Linked DNA regions of Homo sapiens: all the other regions are linked to region 1. The links come from fine-mapping of genetic effects on gene expression. A gene starts in region 1. Each other region holds a variant in brackets. All regions are shown on one strand. Distances are from middle to middle.

Region 1 (5,108 bases):
ATTATTACTACGTTTAGTTTCTTTGTTGAAATAGAGAAGAGTTATAGTTAGTATCTTTTAAATTAAACATTTTTTGAGTACTAGCTCTTACTCTAGTTTCTTGGTACCATATCTTTCAGCTTTCTCTCAAAAGGTATTTTCATTCTTATCAATGCTTTTCCTATCATTCTGGATACTTCGTTAAGTTTATCTTCATTTCTCTAAGAAGTGTAAGGTGTAGTGGAAGTATTAATTTAGTATACTTGTGGTTTCTATTTGCCTGTTTTCCCTTTGAGAGCAGTACACTCCTTTTATTTCTGAATACTCTGCATCAGAGCCCCTTGTCTGGCATGTAGAATATGTTCAATAAATGTTTATTGAATGCATAAATGTATGTTCTCATTCTCTTTACACATCTTGATAGCATGCTAATGTTCATTTTTTATCAGGTAAAGCAAGAAGGGGAGGAAGTTGAACCTTAAATTTGTTTAGTGACTTTATCATGGTCACAGAACCACTACTTTTTTGGTATAGGGAGCCAAGGATCCAAATGGAGACTGCTACTATTTTGCGCAGCATTTCCCCACCTTGTATCTCATGGCCAAACTTTTCAACGCCCCAGATGCAATTTCAGCAGTTAAACGCATGATTTTTCCCCATGAATGTGTGTTCGTGTGTGTGTGTATTTTTAAGTATCCCTTCCCTCACTTTTTGGCACTGGTGCTGCTTTCTGCCTCCAATCTCTCCTCTCTCTGTTTCAGCCTCCACACTACAGCCAGAATCTGCTCTCTAAAATGCAATTGTGATCATGTTACTTCCCTATTTAAAAACCCTTCAATGGTTCACTAATGTCTTGCAGATTAAATTCAAACTCCTTGGTGTGCTAAACAAAGCACTCAAATATCTGGCCCCTTCTACGCGCTTATCGCTCATCATACCCTCTCTTGCATTCACTTAGCTGGTGGTATCAAACTTCTCAACAGTTCCCTACACAAGAGCCTGTTTATTGATCCTTCAGCCTGGAATTACTTCCCTTACCCGACTCAAGACTCTAGCGCCACCTTTGCTATGAAGTCTCTCTTGACCATACTCACAGATAGAACTGATTGTTCCTTTGTGTGTATGCCCACACCCTTACAGGCCTGGATCTTAAGTCTGTTATCACTGCGTTGCGCTTATTTACAAGTATCCGCTGTCCCACCCACGCTCCACTTAGGCCTCTTTATACCCCTAGGTACTCACACAGAGCTTGGCACAAGTGATGCTTTATAAATGGTCAATGAATGAACGTAGTGGAAACACAGAAGAAGAGGGAGAAGAACTGGGGAAGAAAGAAGCTCTGTGGAGAGAATACTAATTGTTTTGCACATGAAAATAATGAGTTGTGAGGGAGGTCAAAAAGGTCAAAGGGAAGAGCCCTGCCTTACAGGAACTCACTGTCTGCTGGGAGGCAAGAGGTAAGGTCCGCATACCAAACACACGAAGCAATGAGCTTATCGGGGTGAAAATGGCTCGTGCACATTATAGTATCACAGAAACTTAGAGGCTGGGGGAGGATGGAGAGGAAACTGGCCTAGTCAAGTGTCTTCTAAGTGTTAGGCGGTTTTCGAGCGTTAAACAGTTTAATCTTTACAACCACCCCATGATGAGGATAGTAGCTCCATTTTAGGGACGAAGAAACATGCTCAGAGAATTTAGGTTGCCCAATGTCACAAACTACCATGTGGAAGGACCATAATTAGAATTTAGGTCAACTGCCTCCAGAGCCCTGAGGCTTTCGCTCCCCCTCTCTCGGCGGTCGAGACCCACAGGGCTCCCATTCACCTGCGCGTCGGCCTGCGCTAGCTATAGCCCTCAGGCGCGCCGCGTTCCGCGCACTCACACCACCCTCTGCGCGCCAGCCCTGCGTCCCTCCCACGCGAACTGCGCCGGCGCGTCCAGCCCTCCCGCCCGGGGGAGGGGCGGGGTTGCGTCGCTGCCGCTGACCCTTGAGCGCGCGGCGGCAGAGGCGGTGTCCAGGCTTCCGGGCGGGTAGTCCTTCGGCTCCGGAGCCGCGACTGCGCTCGCCTAGGTGGTGGGCGGGGAGGGAAGGAAGGGAGCGGGCGCAAGGCGGCGGCGGCGGCTGCGGGTGAGGAACTTGTTGCGCCCGCGGCTGCGCGGTGCCCCTCCCTCCGCTCCAGTTCGTCGGGGCGGGCGCGGCGGCGGCGGCGAAGGAGGAGCGCGGCCGGGGCGATGCGGCGCTACCTGCGCGTCGTGGTGCTGTGTGTGGCCTGCGGCTTCTGCTCGCTCCTTTACGCTTTCAGCCAGCTCGCCGTGTCCCTGGAAGAAGGAACGGGCGGCGGTGGCGGGAAGCCGCAGGCCGCGGTGGCTTCCTGGCTCGCGGGCGGCGGACGCGGCGCCGTGAGAGGCGCCGGCGTCGCGGGCCCCGCAGCGCATCCCGGCGTGTCGGACAGGTACGGGCAGTTCCCGGTGTGGGGGACGCGGCGGGCGCGGGGCGCTGGGCGCGGGCTCGGCCTAGCCCGGGCTGCTCGCCGGTGGGTGCCGCGTCTCCCGCGTCTTTCCTCCTGTCTCTGACCCCTCACTCATTTCCCTCCTTCCCCTCCGGCCGGGGCTAAACCTGCGCTGCTCCCGCCTGAGAGTGTCCTACACTTTCTGTGTTTATCTTTTGACCCAGTCATGCGCCCTTTAAAGCAGTTAGAAATTAATTTTCAACTTTTTAAAAAGAGGGTTCTTTGAAAATAAGAGGTGTCCACAAAAGCCTTACTGCTGCCTGGCTAGTGAGAATTTCCTCTTGTTTCAGTGGAGTTCAAGTTGAGATATTTAAACATGAGGCTGGCGCCCTAGTTCAGTGTTTAAGGATTGTGTGTGTGTGTGTGAGTGTATATGTGTGTGTATTTTGTCCCTCATGCTGATTTTCCTGTGTTAACGCTTACACTTCTAAGTATTAGCCATGGTTAGTTAAATTTGGAAATGGCATTTGTGCGGGTTGTGAAATTTTCTTTTGGAAACACTCAGTTTATTAAGAAACTTAGAGCAAATTAAGAAAAATGAGCGATACTTGGCGTGCTCAAGTCTGTTGTTGGATGGGATGGAGTTACCTTTCTTGACAAATTGGTATTTAAAAAGCGACGTAATGACTTAGGACGTAATCACTGCCAGAGTGGGAATCAACATGAGATTTAAATAGAAAAAAAATGTTTCTGTCAACGCATTATGAATGCTTGAAATCTGAGCGTTTGCACTGCCTTGCAACATGGACACTTCCACCTTATGTATGGGCATCTCTCTGGGAATGACCTGAAGTGCTCCCTACCAAGACTTGGCAAATGCTGCTTTGATATAGAGAAGTATAGGGTTTGTCGGAAGAGGGAGTATAGATCAGTTGTGGGCTGTTGTTTAACATCATTTTGAGAGTCGATGGTCATTCCCAGAATGAAAGGGGAAAGTTTGGGCAGAGGAGCAGCGTGGAAAGCGGACTTGTCATGTTTTTACCCTGAGATTTGATTACAGTCAGGGTAATTCCTACATCAGGACCCTCAGTTGTCTGTCCTGGGAGAAAGCAGTCACTGAAGACTTGAATGAGCTCGTGAAAAATGACAGGTTGAAGCTAAACTGTTTATGGCCTAGTATGTTATTGTGAAGCATTTGCAATTATGGAAAAGGAATTATTTTTATATGGGGTAGAATTGTAAGGAAGCAACATTTTAATTAAATATTGAATGAAATTAGACTGATGTTAACATCACATTTTTAGTGCCTTGGTCTTAGATATTTTATTTTGTGACAGAAATTTACAAATTTTGTTTGCTTGACCAGCTAATTTTAATAAAATTATTTGAAATTTTCGAAAATAGCCTCAGTTTTAATAAACATCCAATATAATCATTACTGAAACGTTAAGTTTTATGTGTCAGGATTGAGTCAACCGAAATACTGTACTTTTTTAGGTCCTTTGAGTAGCATTACTCTTTATTTTAAATGAGGCGTACATCTAAGTTAGAACTATAGGTGTATTTATCTCTCTTTGTAAAAATGTGATGAAGAACAGCATGTCACCACATTTGCGCGCATAAGAAACCATTTGGGCAGGGGAACAACGTGGAAAAGTTGGATTGTGAAGTTTTACTCTATGGTTAGATTAAGATCACGCAAATTACTAAGACCTCAGGACTCTATTTTGTATATCGTCATTTATAACATCTTTATAGAAATGTCATAGAATTAAATCAACTTTTGGCAACGCTCGGTAGCTCACGCCTGTAATCCCAGAATTTGGGGAGGCTGAGTGGGGATGATTGATTGCTGGAGGCCAGGAGTTTGACACCAGCCTCGTCAACAACCCATCTTTACAAAAAATAAAAAAATTAAAAAAAAATTAACTGAATGTGGTGTTTCACACCTGTAATCCCAGCACTTTGGGAGGCTAAGGTGGGAGGATCACTTGAGCCCAGGAGTTCAAGGCTACAGTGAGCTATGATTGCACCAGTGTAATCCAACCTGGGTGACAGAGCAAGATCCTGTCTCAAAAAAAAAAAAAAAAATTAACTTTTTTGGCCACCATGAGATACGGTATAGAAATCCCTAACCTCTTCATGTATAAATCATTTGGCCAAGATCCAAAGCAAATCAGTGTTGGAGGAGGATTAGAAACTGTATCCTTGGAGTGTTATACAAGAGCTCTTTCTGTAAAGAAAGATAAGGGTCTAGTTTAGATAGTGGACTCAGTGGGCAATGGGGCTATGGGGCAAGCCAGCAGCTTCCTCTTTTCAGTAGTACTTAGGTATTATTGCATTTTTGCCTTTTTTGATAACATCTTACTTGAAAGATTATAACTATTTCTCTCTTTTTATTTTAAACACGGGATCTAGGTTTGTACCCAGTAAGTTCCATTGGTCAGATCTTATAAAAACTATTCATGGTATAGAATTTCATGACGACAAAAGACTTGGAGTCCTTGAAGTAAGAACTTTAAAATGAAAGGAACAGTTTTTCAGTGGAATCTCTTATCCGTTAGTGTATTCTGTTTGAAGCCATGATTTTAATAATCAGAAAATACATGGGTCTTGTAGTCAGATAAACCCGTGTTCTCAGTATTCTGGCTCTGGTTGCTGTGAGACTTTGCCTAAATT
Region 2 (5,108 bases), 130 kb after region 1:
TGTGATACAATGGCTTTAAGCAGTAAATGGCTACCTGAAGGTGTGGGATAGCCATTTGAATATTGTCAAAGGATTACTAGCAGGCTTGTATCATGGATTAGAGAAGGGAAACCCTTCTTTTCAGTGGAAATGTAGTCTAGCCAATGAGGCTTTTTGGAAAAGCATCTCCCTCAGAGAGAGGGGGCAAAAAGCAATGAGATTCCATTGAGCCATTCAATCATCCAACTACAATCTCTTGAGCTTAAGCAAAAATTCAATATATAAGCAATACATGTCAGAGTAGTGACTAGAGGGCTTCCCTGACTATCAATGCTTTGGAGGAATTCTCCAAGGGACCTGGAGTCCTAGCAAGCTGTTTCTTGTTTGGTGGTACTGACAGAATATAAAATGTACCACCAGGAATATAAAATGATGGCTCTCTCTTCTAGCTTATAAATTAAGAAAGAGTGGGCATATAAAAGTTGCTCTCAAAAGTATAACAAATAGTGCAGTAAGATATGAAAGTCTTAGTGTGAGTCTAATTTCAGTGTCTAATGCCTTGTCTATAAATCTGTTGTTCAACATTATTAATATATAGCACCAAACATGGGGATGATAAATACAGGCGGCTCAGCAAATTTGTATGTATAGACAAAGGACTGGGAGAAATACCATTACTGAAAATGCTTTGTTCATTGGGGTCTTAATATATAACAGCACCTACTGCAGTGTGGAATGCAGAAGTAGGCAGATCCTTCCAGCAGCATTTAAAAAAGGCTTTATGTTGGGGACACCAGGAGAGCTTTGTTAGAACCTTATTTTACCTCTATTTTACCTTTACCATGACATGCCAGAGGTGTGTCTCCCAGAGGGAGGCCTGTTCATTTAACTTTTATAAATATTTTCACCCTCAGGGGTTCCAAAACACTTTATAAAGTAGATTTCAGGCTGGGCATGGTGGCTTGCACCTGTAATCCCAGCACTTTGGGAGGCCAAGGTGGGCAGATCACCTGATGTCAGGAGTTTGAGACCAGCCTGACCAATATGGTGAAACCTCGTCTCTACTAAAAATACAAAAATTAGCCAGGCATGATGGCATGTGCCTGTAGTCCTAGCTACTCAGGAGGCTGAGACAGGAGAATTGCTTGAACCCAGGAGGTGGTGGTTGCAGTGAGCTAAGATCATGCCACTGCATTGCATTCCAGCCTGGGTGACAGAGCAAGATTCCACAGCTTCTCTCATGTGGATAACCCTTGTTGGCTTCCATATATGGAGGAGAAACCTCATACATTTTGTAGGCAGAGCCAGTTCACTCTTGATGAAATAGTCACTGGAATAGCCCAGGGCCAAAGAACTTCCTTCTGAGAAAATATTTGAATTGAGCAAAATTCTCACTTTAAAATCTGCATTAAGCTCTCAGGTTACCACGAACTTCACTGGGCTAAACTTGGGCTAGATTGGACTGAACTTGGATCAGAAGCTACACAGGGCCATTTTCCTGTCCAGGTGAGAAAGAGTTGCTTGGAACAGACAGTAAGGGGAACAGCCCCAGGGAAGCTGCAGAATTCTTTCTGTGACCTTCTGATGCTTCTGAGATTTGAACTTTGGCTTCCATCCAGTTGGATTTCCTACCTGTCCCCACTACCCCATTTAATTAATCTGCTCTTGCTTGTTACCCTAAGCACACAGGCTGATTCTTTTGGTTCCTGGTTATTTGCTCTGTGTTGCCCTGCTTTCCTTGGCTTGAGACCTGATCTAACCGCTGTGCACTCAGATACTACTTTTAACTCTTTATGCACCATAGTCCTTGGATTCTGCTGCTCAGTCAGTTTTGTCCCAAGAAACATGGCAAGTAGGCCAGAACTAAGTCATCACTTGTGATTACTAAACTAAGTAGGGATTAGCTCCTGACTTCTTTGTCAGGCAATGAGGTTTAAGAAAAGTTTTTAAAAAATACTTGATTATGACCGGGCGCGGTGGCTCATGCCTATAATCCCAGCACTTTGGGAGTCCGAGGTGGGTGGATTGCCTGAGCTCAGGAGTTCGCCAACAGCCTGGGCAACACGGTGAAACCCCATCTCTACTAAAATACAAAAAATTAGCCCCAAAAATTAGCTGTAGTCCCAGCTACTTGGGAGGCTGAGGCAGGAGAGTTGCTTGAACCTGGGAGGCGGAGGTTGCAGTGAGCCGAGATGGTGCCAGCGCACTTCAGCCTGGGTGACAGAGCGAGACTCCATCTCAAACAAATGAACAAACAAACAAACGAACAAAAAAAACTTGATTATAGTAGGGCTACTTTTTAAATTTTTCCCTTTT[C/T]TTCTATCAATATTTTGCCCCTTAAATTATGTTTGTCATTATTAAATATTATGCATAAGCAAGTGCTAAAATAGATCTTTCCAGTGAGTTTCTAGCTATAGACGCTTTCCAGCCACAGCACATGTCGGGCATTGTAGCCATCCCATTGGTTTATGTAAACATCAGTTGAAGTGAGCGGAAGGATGGGGTCAGGGAGGCAGGTAGAGGAGGAAGAATGGTCAGCAGGAGCAGCCTCCTGGCATCACATCAACTACAAGAGCTAATTATCTTGAGTGCTAAGCATCTACCACGCATTTTTTTAATGCAATCTTTAGAACTGCACTGGGAAGTCTGTTTCTATTGCTGATTTGGATGTGGAGAAATTGAGGCTTAGTGATGTTCTCCTGTTTACACAGCCAATAGGTATAGGGATTTAAATTCAGACCCATCTAACTGCACAGCGTGAATGCTTAATCATCTTGTTAAATTGCTTTTACACTTTTATGAGTTGGTTGAAAAAATATTTAATGATTGACATTTACTAAAAATCCAATATGCCCTTCAATAAATTTGTATTTTGTCAATTACACATTGAAAGACACATGGAAAACAGCAGAACTCTCATTGAGAAGTGAGGTCTAATTGCCCTCTGCTTGAATCACAGGCTGGTCCTGTGAGTGCTTTGAGCAACAGAATGACACTGTGTGGTTTCCAAGGCTAGGGCATAAGAAGCCTTGCTGCCTCTCTCTGCCTTTTAAAAATACGTCCGTTTTGGGTGCTATCTTTTGCAACCTAGCCACTCTGAGAAGCCCCATGTACATAGAAATTTCACATATAGGTGTTGTGGTTGACAGCCTCAGCTGAGCTTCCCACCAAGAACCAAAAATAGGCAATTGTACGAGCATGACATCTTGAATGTTCCAGCCCAGCCAAGCCCCCAGATGACTGTTGACATCCTAGCACTTCAGCCAGTACCATGTGGAGCAGTGGAACCACCAATCCACCCACAGAATTAGAAGAGAAGAATACATTTTTTTTTTTGGCTTCTCATGGGTGGGGGGGTTGCTACACAGTAATAGATATCTGAAACACACATCTGTGTGTGATAATATGCTGTATGTAGTCTGCACACAGTGAATGACTGTGCTCATAGTGATTCAAGGATCTCTGGCAATAACTGCAGTCCCATGAGGTCTGAGGCCCACTGTTTGGGACCAGAGAAGAGGCTCATGGGAAGCCTCCTATAGTGATGCATATCATGTATATTGGCAACATCATAATTCATCTGAGTCCCAGACGGTATTCTCAATTGTCCCAGATGGTGTTCTCAATTGTCTCACAGAGGATGGAAACTTTCTGTGGGGTGCCATGGAAAGTTGAGTTAAAATGCACACACACACACCCATAATTTAGATGATCTCAAATGAACAGTATGTATCTGGGTGACATTTGAAAGAAGCAGCCATTTGGATTTCTCTCTTCCAAAGACAAAATACAGGCTAAATGATGCATCAGTAAGTGCTTTTACCAGGCATTCTTAATAGCCTTGGTTTATATGCCTATAATTCTAACATGGGATTTCAGAATGCAATAAACAAAGAACAAAGTGCAACCATTTTACGATATTATTAAAATAGTGCATATAATTGTTGTCTAGTAATCAGAATATTTTAAAAGATACTTGATTATAATGGGTGCTACGTTTTAAATATTTCTCTTAACATTAATTCATCTATATAGGAAGTTTTTTTTTTGTTTGAGATGGAGTTTGGCTCTTTTTGCCCAGGCTAGTGTGCAATGGCATGATCTCGGCTCACTGCAACCTCCGCCTCCTGGGTTCAAGTGATTCTCCTGCCTCAGCCTCCCGAGTAGCTGGGATTATAGGTGCCCATCACCATGCCCGGCTAGTTTTTGTATTTTTAGTAGAGATGGGGTTTCACCATGTTGGCTAGGCTGGTCTCAAGCGCCTGACCTCAGGTGATCTGCCTGCCTTGGCCTCCCAAAGTGCTGGGATTACAGGTGTGAGTCACTGTGCCCAGCCTAGATAAGAAGTTTAAAAATTATTCTTTTAAAAACATGATCTTAGTTTTTAAGCTTTGGTTACATTCTTTTGGTTATGATAGTTACTGTTTATTGTGCACCATGTGCCCTACATGACGGTGAACCTTTCCGTAGCCCCGCAAGGTAGTTATGACCATCCCCCCCTTATAGGTGGAGAAACTGAGGCTTAGAGAGCTTAAATCTCTTGCTCAAGGTTACTTGCTTAATAACTGCAGAGCCAGGATTTGAACCAGAGTCTAGTCGACTCCAGAGTCATGGACTCATGCCATCTTCTATGACTGCACCTCACATTGCCCTTCTAAAGAGCTTATGATTCAAAAGGCAATTTGTAATAAAGAGCCAGACTGGAATGGAGGGTTTAAAAGCGCTGCCTGCCCTTTCGGGTATAAAACATTTTGTTAGAAGCAATAACAGCACAATTACAGCAAATGTCTCCACCTTCACTGTCGGTTACTGCACACAGGTCTAGGTTACAAGTTCAAAATTTCACTGATTATTGGTGCATAATTGGCTTCATGTGGATGATAAACGTATTACTGATTGATTATCATGACTTGGTCATATTTGAAATGTCAAAGTAGAAAATTGAATTGTCATATTATCACATGTTCTCATTCAAGCACCAGATAAATATTACAAATGATGATTTTCCACTGAGTACTGTATAAAGAATTTATGGAATATTAATAATACTGTTATCCACAACCTTCATGCTTGGTGGATGACCCCAAACTGAAATCATGTTTGACTTTTGAGGAATAAACCTTAAGAAT
Region 3 (5,108 bases), 140 kb after region 1:
TACAAATGACATGATTTCTTTTTTTTATGGCCGAATCGTATTCCATTGTGTATATATACCATATTTTCTTTGTCCATTCATCTACTGATGGACACTTAAGTTGATTCTCTATTCTAGATATTGTGAATAGTGTTGTGATAAACATGTAAGTGCTGGTATCCCTTTGACATATTGATTTTTCCTTTGGGTAGATACTCAGTAGTGGGATTGCAGGATCAAATGCATACTATTGTTCATTCCACCTCCCCTCCCTACCTGACACTTCCCTGCTTTTCAAACTCTATTCTTTTTGTGACCCATGCCAGTCTATCTTGGCTTTGACCCTTTTGGAGTAGCACTTACTTCCTCTCCTGCTCATTTGGGCCTTGGACCTCTTATTATTCTCTAAATGTCTCATCCGTGTGTATGTCTCGCTAAAAGACTGCAAATTCCTTGAATACAGGGCCATGAGATCTCTCAACAGGACAGTTTTATGTCAGGTATAGAGTGGTAATTTTTTGTTGAATTAAATGTATTATGCATGTGTGTTAGTTTCTGGGGCTGCCATAACAAAATACCACAGACTGGGTGGCTTAAACTACAGAAATTTATTTTCTCACAGTTCTGGTGGCCAGAAGTTCAAGACCAAGGTGTCAGCAGGTCTGGTTTCTCCTGATGCCTCTCTCCTTGGCTTGCAGATGGCCACCTTCTCACTGTGTCCTCACATGGTCTTTGTGCACACACATTACTGGTGTCTCTGTGTTTCTAAATTTCCTCTTCTTATAAGGTCAGCAGCCAGATTGGATTAGGACCCAGCCTAATGGCCTCACCTTAACTTAATCACAATGCGACTTAATCATTTTAACTGAATCAGAATGTGACTGTATTTGGAGATAGATTTGGGGCCTTAGAGGCTTTTAAGTGAAGGGCCTTATCTCCAAATACAGTCACATTCTGAGGTACTGGAAGTTAGAGCTTCAACATGTGAATTATGGAGAGAAGGCTGACACAGTTGAGCTCATAACAGAATGTGTCTTTAAAATAACTCACAGTTGTACTGAATATGAAGTGCTGATCAAAAGTTAGAATGTCCTATAAATATATGATCTCATATATAGAGGGATTTAATAAAAATTGATTTCAGAATTCACTAGCTTTGATTAAAATAATTTCCAGGTTTCCAACAGGTAAGCCAATGATAGCTACGTGGTCTGCCTAATCACAAGTCATGGCCCATTTGAGATTTTAAAATAACCTTTATTTTACCCAATCAGTTAGCACATATGTGGGAGAGGCCTAACCACCCACCCACTTCTACTCCCTCCAGGTGTCACATCAGCAGGTGTGAATCAAATTAGCAATTTGTGAAGGAAGCTGAATGTAATCAGTTACACAATTTCCAGCTGTTCAAATTTAATCCATTAAATTACATCATGAAACAGACCCATCATGAAGCACTGAAAATAAAATGAAAAAAGCATGAATAAAGGCCTTTCCCTGGGAAATGCTATTATGAGAGAGGTCTCCTGAGTCCTCCAGACCTGTGTGTGAGTCCTGGCTCTGTCACTTAGTAGTTTCTGAACTTGATCAAGGCTCAGTTTCCTCACCTGGGAAATAGGGCTAATAATGATCACTGCATACATAGGTTTTGAGAATTAAATGAGATGTTGAAGGAAAAAATAATCCTCTGGTATGTGAACAGCATGAGAGTAAGGACTTTGTTTCTTTCCTTCATTGATTTATCTCCAGTGTTTAGAGCAATGACAGAAAATAGTAGGTGCTCACTAAATGTTTATTGAATGAATTAATGAATAAATAAAAGAACTCCCACAGAGCAATAGTGATAGCTTTCATGGACATAAGGCAGAGGTTCTCAAGTCTGGCTGCACATTAAAAGTGGGGAGCTTTTAAAAAAATACCAACGCCATGGCCCCCAACCTATAGAATCTCATTTATTGGTTTGAGTTCAGCCTTTAGCATTGGGATTTTTTTCCCACAGCACATACCATCTTCTAATACACAATTTAATCAATACATCTGCTCTATAATCTTATCATACACATGCTAATTGTAATTGTGTAATAATAAATATCATATTTTTTGTTTCTAGTTCATCTCTTCCCTCTAGCATGTAAGCTTCATGAGTGTAGAGCTTCTTCCTAAGTGCTTAGAACATACTTAACACCTAGATTCTCAATACATATTTGATAAACAAATGAATGATCAAGGTATATGATCCAAATAATTTGGAAGTAGCTGAAGTTTATTTATTTATTTATTTTTTTGAGACGGAGTCTCGCTTTGTCACCCAGGCTGGACTGCAGTGGTGTGATCTCAGCTCACTGCAAGCTCTGCCTCCTGGGTTCATGCCGTTCTCCTGCCTCAGCCTCCCGAGTAG[C/T]TGGGACTACAGGCACCCGCCACCATGCCCGGCTAATTTGTTGTGTTTTTAGTAGAGGTGGGGTTTCACCGTGTTAGCCAGGATGGTCTCTATCTCCTGACCTCATGATCCGCCTGTCTAGGCCTCTCAAAGTGCTGGGATTACAGGCGTGAGCCACCGCGCCCGGCCTGAAGTTTATTTTTTTTAAGTGGCAAATTTTACTGATTAGAAAGACAGAAAAGTTCAATTGGTTGGTAGTAGGAGGTGAATTAGAGGGAGGGGCTATCACCACAGCTGGTGGGTGTTGGAGAAGGAATCCCACACCTCCTGGGATGAGTCCTTGGCAGGGATTAGACAATGGAAAGCCCAGGTAAGTCTAGAGGAAAGTTCCAAGGCAGGGATGCTTGTGATTTTCTTCCTAGGTGAAGTCTGAGAGAACAGAAAGCCACTTAGATCCAGGGTCCCCTGCACCAATGGAGTTCCCAGTAGATTAAAAATGGTGGAGTGGTTTGCATGAGCAGAGAAGAGTTTACAGCCCATTATCATCAAGTTTCCTGGCCCCTGAAGTAGTGTGGAAGAGTGAGGAAAGTTTTCTCTAGTCTTGGGAGGGGTGAAGAAGTGGCTGAGAGTGGCCAGAGACCCAGGAGGCCTTGCCATCCAGACAAGAAGGCTCCAGGTGAGCAGCATGGTTCTGGCGCCCAGAGAGGAGGGCGGAGCCTGCATGGCTCAGCAGCAGCTACAGTGTGGTTAGTGACAGAACAGTGAGAACCTCTGTTATATTAGTATATATTAGTTATATTAGTAGCGGACACAGCGTGTGACTGGGGCAGATTGAGATGGAGAAAGGACGCTCTATTCCAACAGGCAGCTGCTTTAGGTCCTGCGACTGAAAGAATCTCTGGTGGGCTGAAAAAAAAAAGAGTTAAAAGCAGAGGGTGAGAACTTTGGATTAAGTTTTCTTGAAACTGACTAGACTAAGTTTTCTGCTTCAGGTGGAATGCACTTTGACAGCTAAGGTGGCCAGGATTTTAGGGACACAATTTTTTTAAAGTTCCATTTTTGTACATCTGAGTTTGTGACTGCAAAATTTATACCTGTACAGTAGCGATCTTATTACGTTTTATCATTATTATGCACTTGGCTCACGTGTGTGTCCAGTCCAGTGGCTGCCCATCAAGCACGGTCTCCATGGCCTCATCATCACCAGCAGGACACTCAGGTGGCTGGCTTGCATGGTTCCTGATCACATGGCCAAGCTTTGAAGGCTCCCATCAGGGTCAGCTCCAGGTGAGCTTCTTGGGTCTTGAACAGAACTGACCCTTTGATTTTATTTATTTATTTATTTTTTGAGACAGAATCTCACTGTGTCACTCAGGGTGGAGTGTAGTGGTGAAATCTAGGCTCACTGCACACTCTGCCTCCTGGGTTCAAGTGATCCTCCTGCCTCAGCCTCCCAAGTAGCTGGGACTACAGGCGTGCGCCACCATGCTGGCTAATTTTTTTGTATTTTTAGTAGAGACGGGGTTTCACCATGTTGGCCAGGCTGGTCTCGAAACCCTGACCTCAAGTGATCCGCCTACCTCAGCCTCCCAAAGTGCTGGGATTACAGGCGTAAGCCATTGTGCCCGGCCAGATCCTACCCTTTCAGTATCTTCAGATGGCAGGGTGTGGAATAGTCTCTGATGTCTCAATTTCCCAGCCAATGTATTAAGCCTATTTGATTTCTGTGGCCAACCATTCCTCAAACTCCAGGATGGCCTCGAAGGGCACAGACAGCTTCGGTGAACTGGACTGGAGCCCAAATTTGGTTTTAGAAGAATAATGAGCTGGTCTCTCATGCAAACACACATCTTACCTGAAAATCTTTGAGCTATTTCAAGATTCAACTCAGGTTGGTATTTAAGGCCTTATATACAGGAATCTCCAAACATTCCCTTGAAGACACATGAAGTTCCTTGTTTTCTGTGAGTAGCAGGCTCTTTCAGCTGTCTTGGCTGGTTTTACATCTGGTCCTTTGATTGCCGAACTCCCTGCTTCATCCTTTCCACTTCTGTTCATCCTTTGAGTCCTGGGTCAAATGCTGCATCCTTTTTGAAATCTTTCCTAACTCTTCTGGTCTCAGTCCAGGGACTCTCACAGCATTTGATACTGTCTCTAAAGCACTTTTCACATTGTTCTCTAATTATTTATTTTTATACTTATTCTTTCGCTAGTCTGTCAATTGTTCAAGCCAATAAGTTGTGTGCCTAATTTGAGTTATTCCCAGCATGCCCTGCATCTTCCTGCAAGTGTGTGTGTGTGTGTAGTGTGTGCACGTAGAGAATTCCCTGGAAATCACATAGCTCTGGAGTCTTTCTATGGAGTATGACATGATCAGTATCCTCTCAGGATAGTATATGATCACATCCTATTCCGCAGAAAGGTCTTTGAGCACAACGGCATTCCCACTGGAGTCCCATCAAGGGAGCCTTGGTTCCTGAGAACCTAGATGAGTTGTACCTAAAGTGTGGTTCCCAGTCCCACAGCCTCAGCATCACCTGGGAATGTGTTAGAAATGCAGATTCTGAGGCCCACCACGACCAACTGAATTAGGAACTCTGGAGTGGGCCCCAGCAACTGTGTTTTCTTATGCCCTTCAGGGGATTTTGTGGGTGCCACTCCCGGCCTTGGACCCACTCCAGGCATCTCCATGGTTACAGAGGCAGGGAATTGGGGGCTGGCAGGGAGTGGGGAAGGCTGAGGTGGGTAGAGG
Region 4 (5,092 bases), 55 kb after region 1:
CTACAGTTCTAGTGTATTAGTAGCTAAGTTTCTTGTCCTATAAACTTGACAGATACAGCTTCTAAACAATCAGTTTATCATGGTATGACTATACTCACTGATGAATTATAAAATTTAGTGTTGATGTTCATTTTAATGTAGCAGGCTTTGTATGCCTTCAGAAATTAATACTGTATTTTAATAATGCTTTATTATGGGTTGTCAGAAGGTGATAAAAATGAAGAAAAGTGCTTGTGGGGTTCTGAGACTTTGCAGGATAGAAAAGAAATGCATTCCTATAAAAATGAGATTTCCTTTGTTTCCTTTGAGTATTAAAAAAAATCTACTATTAGAGAATTAAGTTTCCCTGGTTTTATTTGATCTTTTCTTTGGTTTATAAGTGTGTACCTTTAAAAATACGAGTAATAGTTTTAAGTTGATTAATTACACTTGATTTTTTTTTAAAAAAATCTTATTTTTAAAAGGATTTCAGATGATTAATTATCTTCTGTGTTTGTTTTGGGTCTGTGTTAACTACAGCTTACATTTATTCATTTTTCAACTTAATGAAGTTAATCTGTCTTTTATGATGCTCCTGCTTAGTGTTTTTATATTTCCTTATCTGTAATTCAGTAAGAAGTGTAATTTTTAAAAGAATTGTATTCAGACAAGGATATTTATGCAAGTTTCAGACAGAGGCTTAGTCATAGCCATGGAATGCAGTGAACAGTATGAATTATAAAGGATGTGAACCATCTTTAAAGTGTGAATTCATGGCTATGTCTACCAGCAAATCTGTTTTTATAGTCCATGCATATTTGTTAAATATTAGTTGTTGAGTGAATAAAAATGTTTAAAAATTACAAATTCAAAATCAGAACAAAACATTTTATGGCTCTATAAGGTATTTTCTGCATCATGCATTTCATTCTGAATTATATTTCTTGATGTTTTGTGTTAACTTTGATTTACTTTACACCTTGCTTATATTTGCAAAACTCTCTGCAAAGCAGTCTTGAATGTTTTCCTTCCCATAGTACTGACTTGCATATAGTGAACACTTAGGATTTGTTGGATTGAACTGCCATTCTCCTGTATTTTCCAAAGATGTACTATTCTTTGAAAATACCTCAAATTGCCTAATTATGGTCATCACAGCTTCACTATTTCATGTCGTTCAACTGACAGTATAAAGCATGAGCTTCCTAAAAATCAGTGTACTGGGCCCTGTGCCACTGAAAAGAGGGAACGATTAACTGTACATGGAAAGGCTTCTCAGAGGAGCTGACATTTGAACTAAGCTGTAAGGATGATGAGTACCAGGCAGAGAAGAAAAGGTAAGGATAAGTCAGGCATAGTATATAGTATAAAAAGAGGTCTGGAGTCAGGTAAGGGCACGTGTGGCCTCTGGGAAAGGGACACCTAGATGTAGGTTATGTACTGTACAAATATGCAGGCACTGCAGATTATGTAAATGGAAGAATGCAGTGTCTTTAGGCTATGTTTATATAGGTGGAAATTTTGGAAATTTATCTTCTTCCTTAGAGGTCAGATTGCTTTTTTCATATGATGGGCAGAAAGAGGTCTAACTAATGAGACACTGTTTTTATTTAAGAAAATATTCATCAAATGGCTTTTTTTTTCCAGTGAAGAAGAAAACATTTTTTAACCACAAACACTGGGATTTGAATCACATGAAAACAAAGAAACTTAATCTCGAGTACTACATACTCCTGGGAATCAATAGTCTTCCTCTATTCTTAAATGCTTTCATTTTATTGTCATATAGTAAAAATAATGATCATAGTAGTTTGGGCTTCCCATAATTTTCTGCCACTCAACCAGTTGTTCAAGTGTTTTTTGTGCACATTGAAATATTTCTTGAAAGTATCACTTGGTGAAGTTTACCTTCTTCAACCTGGCTACACTTTTAACCCCAAACAAATTTGTGTATCTGTTTACAATACAGCACTTTCCCCAGATTTCCACCATTCATTGAGCTTCGTCCTTCAACAGGATTTTTGAACTGACTTGGCATGGTGTTGTTTGCTTAATGTTTGGATAAGTAGTGCTGTCTGGTGGTTAATTAAGTGCATGGACTTTTGGAGCTAGACTGTTGGGACGGAATCCTGGCTTAACCACTTACTGCATTTATAACTGAGAAAATCCTCTCTCCTTGCCTTCGTTGTTTCATTGTCAGATGGAGATAATATTACCTATATTATAAATGTGTTAATACATATACAACTCTTTTATATGTATATATATTTTATTATACTTTAAGTTCTAGGGTACATATGCACAACGTGCAGGTTTGTTACATATGTATACATGTGCCATGTTGGTGTGCTGCACCCATTAACTCGTCATTTACATTAGGTATGTCTCCTAATGCTATCCCTCCCCCCTCCCCCCACCCCACAACAGTTCCCGATGTGTGATGTTCCCCTTCCTGTGTCCATGTGTTCTCATTGTTCAGTTCTCACCTATGAATGAGAACATGCAGTCATATACAACTCTTAGAATGGTGCCTGGCATGTAGGTAGCAAGCACTCTGTGTGCTATTGTTATTTTTATTACA[T/C]TGTTCCTGGCTAAGTTTCCCCATCTCTTTTTAAAACTTTTATCTTCAAAACAATTTTAGACGTTTATCTTGAGTATGTGTGATTGATTTTTAAAAATCACTCCAAGGGTGATGGTTTTATGCAGTTAATGCTTACAGTTTTTCTTGCTCAAAAGATGCCAAAGTTTAGGATCTCTTTGCATCTCTACAGTGACAAAACCCATGTTTTAAACAAACATCCAAGTTCATCCTCTTCTCTGTAGATTGACTGCAGCTTCCTGCAGACTCACTAAGTGTGCTTGGGGTGGTTCTTTCATTTCCTCTCCCTCAGCGTGCTAGTGAACCTCAGGGATAACCTGGGAGATTTCTGGTTCTGAATTTCCTTTGTGATTTTGCATTTTTCACCAACTTCAACTTCCATATAAAATGTTCTACTTTTAAGCCCCATCCATCTTTCTAATTGAAAATACACCTAGTTGAAAATACTAAATCACAAAATACCTGGTTGAAAATACAAAGATTACTTATTATTTCCACTTTACTACCACAGCCTTTTCCAAAATTTATTTCTCGATATTAGTATATTTTATAGTAAAAGAAGGACTCTAGCCAAAAATATATCTTGGGACAAACAGGTCAGACAACACTCAACAGATTTATTTTCTGTTTTACTTTTTAGACTTTTTCCTGTGCTAGTCTGAATCCCCATGAAGAGTGCCTAATATTTAGCAGTTTTCAAATGTGTTTATTGTTGGGATCCTTCTGTGCAGTTAGGGTTCTGTGGGACATGCTGAACTATGTTATCATCTTACATTCCTCCCACCATATGCCTTTACTTCATTTCCTTCCATTCCAGCCTCAGCAGTATTATTGCCAGAGTGGTTTTTAAAAGGTGGGACGCGGGTGTGGTGTGTGGTAAAGCTCTTCTTTTAGCCAGTCCACCTTTTATTAGTTTCACCGAGATACTCGTAGGGCTTTTGGTTGTCTTCTTAACCAGTATTTCAGTCTTCTCTGCCCTTGCGCATGTTCTCCAGGATTCCCCCGGAGATTTACCATGGCTGTCTTTCTTTAATGGGAGATAATAGTTCTGTTTAATTTATTGAAAATATTTGTTAAACATCTAATTTCTGTGAGACGTTAAATGGAGATCGTTCATATTAAACTGATTGAAGAAGTTTGGAAAATAATTGAACTTACATATGTACCTTTGCCTTTTAAATTTTTTATTTTTTAAAATTTTCTTTCTCTAGTGTTCTTTTGAAGATGACAACATCCGTTCCTTATTAAAACCTTTAGAACTGGAACTACAAAAAACAGTGCATACATACTGTGGAAAAATTTACAAAATATTTATCAAACAACTAGCAAAAAGTGTAAGAGATCGTTATGCCAGATCACCAAAGGAAAAGTGATTCTTGGTGACTGCTTAATCAAATGGATGAAAACAAAGAATCAGAAGATAAGTGTGAAGGAATCGTCTTGGATGAAGTATTCAGGAAGGAATTACTCATCTCCAGAATAATTTTTTTTTTCCTAAAGAAGTTAAGTAAGCAGTATTTTCAGGTAATGAAGAATAAGTTAAAATCTTGGGCCTCAACATTGAACATTTTTTATCTCTGATGTTTTGTAATGTTACTTGCTATCATTCCAGTATTGATGAAAATACTATTGAATGGGTTTAACCTGCAGACTTCTGTTGACTCATACTCTCAAGAGTGGTAGGGGTGTGTAGATGGAGAAAATGTACCTCAAACAGTGCCAACACTCAAGACTGTGAGTAGAGCAATAATTTTATGTCAGCACTAACCTCACTTTAAAAGTGTGAGAAAAAAGTTTGTTTACAGGAGCAGAAACAGGTCTGTTGTTTCTGAAGAAATGTGATGTAACTGATGTAACCATTGACAATCTATGTGTGCCTTTATACATTTCATCTCTGTTTTAAAATATTTTTATGACAATCATGTTTAAAATTATTTTTAGATTACAAGTAAGCTGCATGTTAAAAATTGAGCTGTGTAAGGTAGAGGAAAAATAGTGAAAACTTTGGGATTTTAATCTGTGTGTGCGTGTTTGTGTGTGAGAGAGAGTGAGAAATGTAGTGTTTCATTTTGTATGCATTAAACTGTCTTGCCAAAACTCAGATCTAAGATTGTTAAATAGATATTTGGGGAATTTTTTTTTAATCACTTTAAATGAAAAACGTCAGCTTTACTGGGCATTCTGGAAGCAAAATATATTATGCTGATGGTAAAGTGAGAACCTTAAGAGTATACTCATGATGGTGGAAAGTGTGATGGACCAAAATGCATAAGCTATATACTTCCTGTGAGTAGTAATTTTAGTTACAATGGAGTAGAAAAATATGGTCCATTTAAACTTGTCTTCTACCTCATAACGGCCTTGCAAGATACTTTTGAAGAAGCAAATGTCTAGAGCCTTACTTTAAGTAAGTTAAACAACTTAAGTGGATGATTTGGAATAAGATTGTTACATCCAGCTGTAGAAAATGTGGTTTTAATTGGGTTGATGTGCATTTTTGAATATCACCTAAGA
Region 5 (5,108 bases), 150 kb after region 1:
ATAGCATTTTCACTTATTTCCACTTCAAATTTATGGTCATTACTATACCTGTGTCTAGATTTTATTATTTAATGCAAAAATAAAGAATCACATATATTGCTTCCCATTGGGTTTGGCCAACAGGACAAGATCAGAGGACATGAGAGAGAGGTCAGGGTCTTGATTCCCCTGGCTCCCCTCCTGTGTGGCTGGAGGTCAGCAGAGACTGTACTCGTTGCTGAAGGCCATTGCTCCTGTCAGGAGCTCTCTCCACAGCTCTTTTGGGCCCCTGTGAGTCTGAGGCTGTGATATGGTTTGGCTATGTCCCCACCCTAATCTCACTTTGAACTGTAGTTCCCATAATCCCCACATGTTGTGGGAGGAAGCTGGTGGGAGGTAATTGAATCATGGGGACTATTACCCCCATGCTGCTGTTCTCATGATAGTGAGTGAGTTCTCATGAGATCTGATGGTTTTATAAAGGGCTTTTCCCTCTTTGCTAGACACTTCTCCTTCCTGCCATCACGTGAAGAACATGTTTGCTTCCCCTTCCACCATGATTGTAAGTTTCCTGAGGCCTCCCAGCCATGCAGAACTGTGAGTCAGTTAAACCTCTGTCCTTTGTAAAATACCCAGAATACTGCAGTTCTTTATAGCAGCATGAAAATGGACTAAGATGGGTGGTAATAGTTCTCTGTTCTTGCTGACTCTGTGATCCTTCACCATTTTTGTTTGTTTCTCTTAATCTGCCCCCATAACTTTTTAAGTAGCTATTTCATGAAATGCTCTTTAATCATCCCCTTTGAATGTGCTCTGTTTCCTGCCAAGATCCTGACTGATACACTCCCAAACTAGATCTAATTCCTCTCTTCTTTAAATTCCCCCCTTCTTTGGGCACTTCCTGTAGTGTTGGGCTTCCCTATTAGACAAAAGACATCTCTTGAGCACTTATCATCTATCAATCAGTCACTATTCTGGAGGCTAGGGAATACAGTGATGGACAAGACAGATGACGTCTTTGTTACCTTGAACTAGAATAATAAAATGAGCATTAGTAAGTGCTTACCATGTGCCAGGTGCTTTAAAAAGTCCTTTACATGTAGGAAGTCATTTAATCCACACAAGAACTTTGCGGTATATTTGTCAAATAAGGAAAAAGAACCACGGAGAGAGTAAGTAATTTGCTGGAGGTCATACCGCCAAGAAGCAGCAGAGCTGTAATTCTAACCCAGGAGGCCTGACTCCAAATCTCATGCTCTTAACCACATCACTATGTTGTCTCTTACTAGCTTAGCATCCTTTTCAATAACCAGCACATTGCCAATGCTCAGCAAATATTTGTTGCACTGATTTGAGTAAATAGTCCCTTTAGGAAAGGAAGATAGCAATGGGATTATGCTTTTGGTAGTTTCAGCAAAATTTTGATTTCAGCAGCTTTTAAGAAGAGTTTGGTTTTCTTTTGTTTTATTTTCAAGTGTTTATCTGCAGTAGCAGGTGGTAAGAAAAAGATTCTCTTCCCCGTTTAGCTGAGTAAATATCTAGTCATGTGGCTGGATCTTCATCCCAACACAATTATGTGCTCTCATCCTGGGCAGGAGGCAGCCTTGTGACACAGCAATGCTCAGTGGGTAATAGTTGTAGCAAATGTTTAGTTACAACAGAATAGCACCCAACTCTTAATCATTAATAGGAACCCATGCAAGAGTTCACTGCAGCTGTGACTTCTTTTCCTGGTGATTCATTCTGTTTGAAATATAATGTACTCAAAAAGCAGCAAAAACTATAGCTAGAAATCACTGTAATGGTGTTCATGAAAGCTATTGCTAATTTAGGGTCCAATTAAAACTAGAAATCCAATTATTGCTGAATAACATAATTGCAAGAAAGTAACCTGAATTGCACATATGTCAGTAATTAAGGAGGAAGCTTTAATAACAGAATCTATTTGAACTATTTCAAGGAGGGGCCAAAGAGGCTGAGGATTGGCTCCAGGGTGGGTCAGTGCAAGGAATACCCCAGCGGTTGGGTGCTTACAGTAGGCTCCGAATTTTGTCAACATGGTTTGCTTTTACAGCCTAGCTCACGGGGTCCTGGCAAGATAAATGCAGAATTTAAGAGCAGGATAAAATTGATCTCTGAATCCACATCCTATGAAGCATCAAATACACCATGAGCCCTGAAAAATTAAATATTAGAAGGTATTATTTGTTAAACACTTGAGATGCTATAGAAAGCAGTTGGCAAAATAAATGTCAGATATTGTACCTTTACAGTTCAAACTCTGATTTTGACCTTGCTGTTAACTTTACTGCATTGATTCCATTACTTCCAGTGGAGTGGCTAGGCGGGTGAGAGTCTGGGTTTGGAGAGACAGAAACTGGGCCTATCCAGTGTGTCAACACTTGGACACAGGAAGGGGAACATCACACACCGGGGCCTGTTGTGGGGTGGGGGAGGGGGGAGGGAAAGCATTAGGAGGTATACCTAATGTAAATGACGAGTTACTGGGTGCAGCACACCAACATGGCACATGTATACATATGTCACAAACCTGCACGTTGTGCACATGTACCCTAGAACTTAAAGTATAATAATAATAATAATAAAAAGAAAGCAGCCTTGGGTTTTGGCAAGGTCTTGCTGCCCAGCAAACGATGTAGTCCTCTTTATTTGAGTGGTCTGCAGAGGTGGGTAGCAGCATCTCTTACAGAACCCCAGGCAGGTGATTCATTTACTGCAGAGGCAATCAGGTAATGTGAACTCTTACTGAAATATAGTAGGGCTGCAGTTCTTAGAATGCGTGCGTCAGAGTCTCCTAGAGGGCTTGTTACATACATACAGATGCTGGGCCTGACCACCTCAGAGTTTCTGAGTCAGTAGGTCTGGATTAGGGTTAGGGTCTGAGATCTGCATTTTTAATAGGTTCCCAGGTGATGCTGATGATGCTTGCTGGTTTTGGGACTACATATTTTTGAGAACCACTGTGGTAGGGTAGATGTCAGCTGGGTCCAGTGAGGAGGAGCTGGAGTTAGGAGTGTGAAAAGTTTGTTGGAGAGTAAAACCTGTGTGAAGGGGAAGGTC[G/T]GAATCAGAAGCCGGGCCGGGCATGGTGGTTTATGGCTGTAATCCCAGCATTTTGAGAGGCTGAGGCAGGAGGATCACTTGAGCCCAGGAGTTCTAGACCAGCCTGGGCAACATGGTGAAACCCTCTCTCTACTAAAAATACAAAAATTAGCCAGACTTGATAGTGCATCCCTGTAGTTCCAGCTACCTGGGAGGCTGAGGCCAGAGGGTCATGGAGGGCAGCTGATTTGGGAGGGGCAAATTAGCTGGCAAAGGTTAGGAAAGGGGTCAGAGGCTTTGCTAATCAGATTGGGGTTTAGAGTATGGCTCCAGCCCCACTGAGCATCAGGTATATGAAACAGATAAGCAACTGTGTACCGCTTAAAAGTAGTAGTGATAATGGGCACCATTTCTTGAGGTCCTACTATGTGCCAGATGGTTTACTTAATTTTAATTTTTGAAGTAGATCTGTGAGGAAGGTGATATCATTCCATTTTACTGAGAAAGAAGCAAGAGCTCTGAGAATTTACATGTATGTTATCCTGTTGCAACTTCAACTCTGTCTGATCCCAAAGCTTGAGTCCACCCAGGAATGAGCGAAGGTGATGTAGGGAGGGGCTGTGGCTCAGGTAACTGTGAGCAGCAAGATGTTTTCAGAAGGATCTGGCGAGGCAGAGACTTCTAACATCTTATGTGTTCCTGTCAGGATTGGCTCAGGACCTCCACAGAGGTGAGTTTTCTGGTAAAGCCCTTACTCGATAACTCTGCTGAGTGTGTGGAGAAATAGGAGCCAAGAGTCACAGCCATTGCCTTATAAATCACAATCCCCAAATGGTAGGCAAACATTTAGTCTTAATCGTAAAGAGGGAAGGTACTTGTATGAGTTTCTCATGGCTGCCATAACAAATTACAGAAAACTGGGTGGCCTGAAACAACAGCAATGTATTCTCTTAAAGTGCTGGAGGACAGAAGTCTTGGATCAAGGTGTTGGCAGGACCATACTTCCTCTGGGGGCTGTAAGGGAGAATCCATTTTTGCCTTTTCAGCTTCCAGTGGCCCCAGGCATTCACTGGCTTCCTTGATGTAAGGCCGCATCACTCCAGCCTCTGCCTCCATCTTCATGTTACCTCTCCTCTATGTGTTTTCTCCTTCTTTGTCTCTTATTAGGACACTAGTCGTTGGGTTTAGGATCCACCTGGGTAATCTAGTTAGATCTTCTCTCAAGATTCTTAATTACATCTTCACTCTTTTTCCGAATAAGGTCACATTCACAGATTCTAGGGGTTTGGATGTCTTTTTGAAGGTCATTATCCAATCTACTACAATCCTCAAATAAATGTTTCCGAGGAAATCAAGGGTAAAAGTTGTTAGAATGTTTACACAAAATAACTTTTGTTTGTGAATGGATGAGATATTTTCTAAAAAGTCATAATTGAGTAGTTTTCTATGGACTCTGAAACCCAGATTTTACAAATAATATTTCTGGTGGGTACTTTCAAAGACGGTCACCAATACTTCCTCCCAACAATTTCTCCCTATCCTTGTGGAAGGATGTCCGCATCCAAAGATATGCTCTATTTTCCTCTCTTTGCACCTGGCCTGACCTTGTGACTTGCTTGGACCAACAGAATGCAGTGAAGGTGACCTTCTGGATTTCTGAGCCTGGGCCTGGCAACTTCTGCTTCACTTCTTGGGAGCCAGCTGCTATGTAAAGAAGACTGAGCAAGACAGCTGAAAGATATGTAGAGAGAGAAGCCAAGACAGTGCCCAGCTATCCCAGTCACACCCACAGACTCACCACATGTATGAGTGAAGCCATCTTGGACTTTCCAGCTGAGCTCCCAGCTAAAGGCAGCTGCAAGGGTGATCCCAGCTGATGCCATGTGAAACAGAAGAACCATCCACCTGAGCCCAGCCAAGGTACCGAATTGAGAAAAATAACAAATTGTTGTTTCAAGTTAGTAACTTCTGAGGCAGTTTGTTGTGTCACAATAGGTACATAAAACAATGCTGTAAATTATGTCATTCAAAAAGTTTAACATGGGCTAAAGGAAATGACACCGTAGAAG

Which allele goes with the higher level. Alleles are on the strand shown, and positions count from the first base shown. SD is a standard deviation of normalised expression in the study named. Not every link is listed here.
With allele C in place of T in region 2, the expression in monocytes after R848 of the gene that starts at base 1,984 in region 1 is lower (moderate effect, 0.67 SD a copy in Quach 2016).
With allele T in place of C in region 3, the expression in monocytes of the gene that starts at base 1,984 in region 1 is higher (large effect, 0.79 SD a copy in Quach 2016).

Evidence for each region. PIP is the estimated chance that this variant, and not a neighbour inherited with it, causes the effect. A credible set is the group of variants that fine-mapping cannot tell apart.
Region 2: its variant is the best candidate, but not a certain one, in a credible set for the expression of GXYLT1 in monocytes after R848 (Quach 2016, PIP 0.60).
Region 3: its variant is the best candidate, but not a certain one, in a credible set for the expression of GXYLT1 in monocytes (Quach 2016, PIP 0.68).
Region 4: its variant is the best candidate, but not a certain one, in a credible set for the expression of GXYLT1 in whole blood (INTERVAL, PIP 0.60).
Region 5: its variant is the best candidate, but not a certain one, in a credible set for the expression of GXYLT1 in spinal cord (GTEx, PIP 0.88).

The regions. Positions count from the first base shown.
Region 1 is chr12:42,141,750-42,146,857 of GRCh38, reverse strand. GXYLT1 (glucoside xylosyltransferase 1) reads left to right here and starts at 1,984. Exons shown (of 8, transcript NM_173601.2): 1 at 1,984-2,432. The coding sequence starts at 2,212. RefSeq lists an enhancer at 1,557-1,626 and silencers at 1,787-2,286, 2,367-2,596.
Region 2 is chr12:42,008,813-42,013,920 of GRCh38, reverse strand. The region is part of intron 2 of LOC105378247 (a long non-coding RNA gene); the gene reads left to right. Among named protein-coding and RNA genes, the nearest start is that of GXYLT1, 130 kb to the left of the region's middle. The variant C/T (reference allele first, on the strand shown) is at 2,296.
Region 3 is chr12:41,998,936-42,004,043 of GRCh38, reverse strand. All of the region lies in intron 2 of LOC105378247 (a long non-coding RNA gene), which reads left to right. Among named protein-coding and RNA genes, the nearest start is that of GXYLT1, 140 kb to the left of the region's middle. The variant C/T (reference allele first, on the strand shown) is at 2,378.
Region 4 is chr12:42,086,645-42,091,736 of GRCh38, reverse strand. It overlaps GXYLT1 (glucoside xylosyltransferase 1), which reads left to right. Exons shown (of 8, transcript NM_173601.2): 8 at 3,790-5,092. The coding sequence ends at 3,951. It also overlaps the pseudogene LOC101929308. Among named protein-coding and RNA genes, the nearest start is that of GXYLT1, 56 kb to the left of the region's middle. The variant T/C (reference allele first, on the strand shown) is at 2,561.
Region 5 is chr12:41,988,740-41,993,847 of GRCh38, reverse strand. LOC105378247 (a long non-coding RNA gene) reads left to right here. Exons shown (of 4, transcript XR_944875.4): 3 at 4,668-4,959. Among named protein-coding and RNA genes, the nearest start is that of GXYLT1, 150 kb to the left of the region's middle. The variant G/T (reference allele first, on the strand shown) is at 3,061.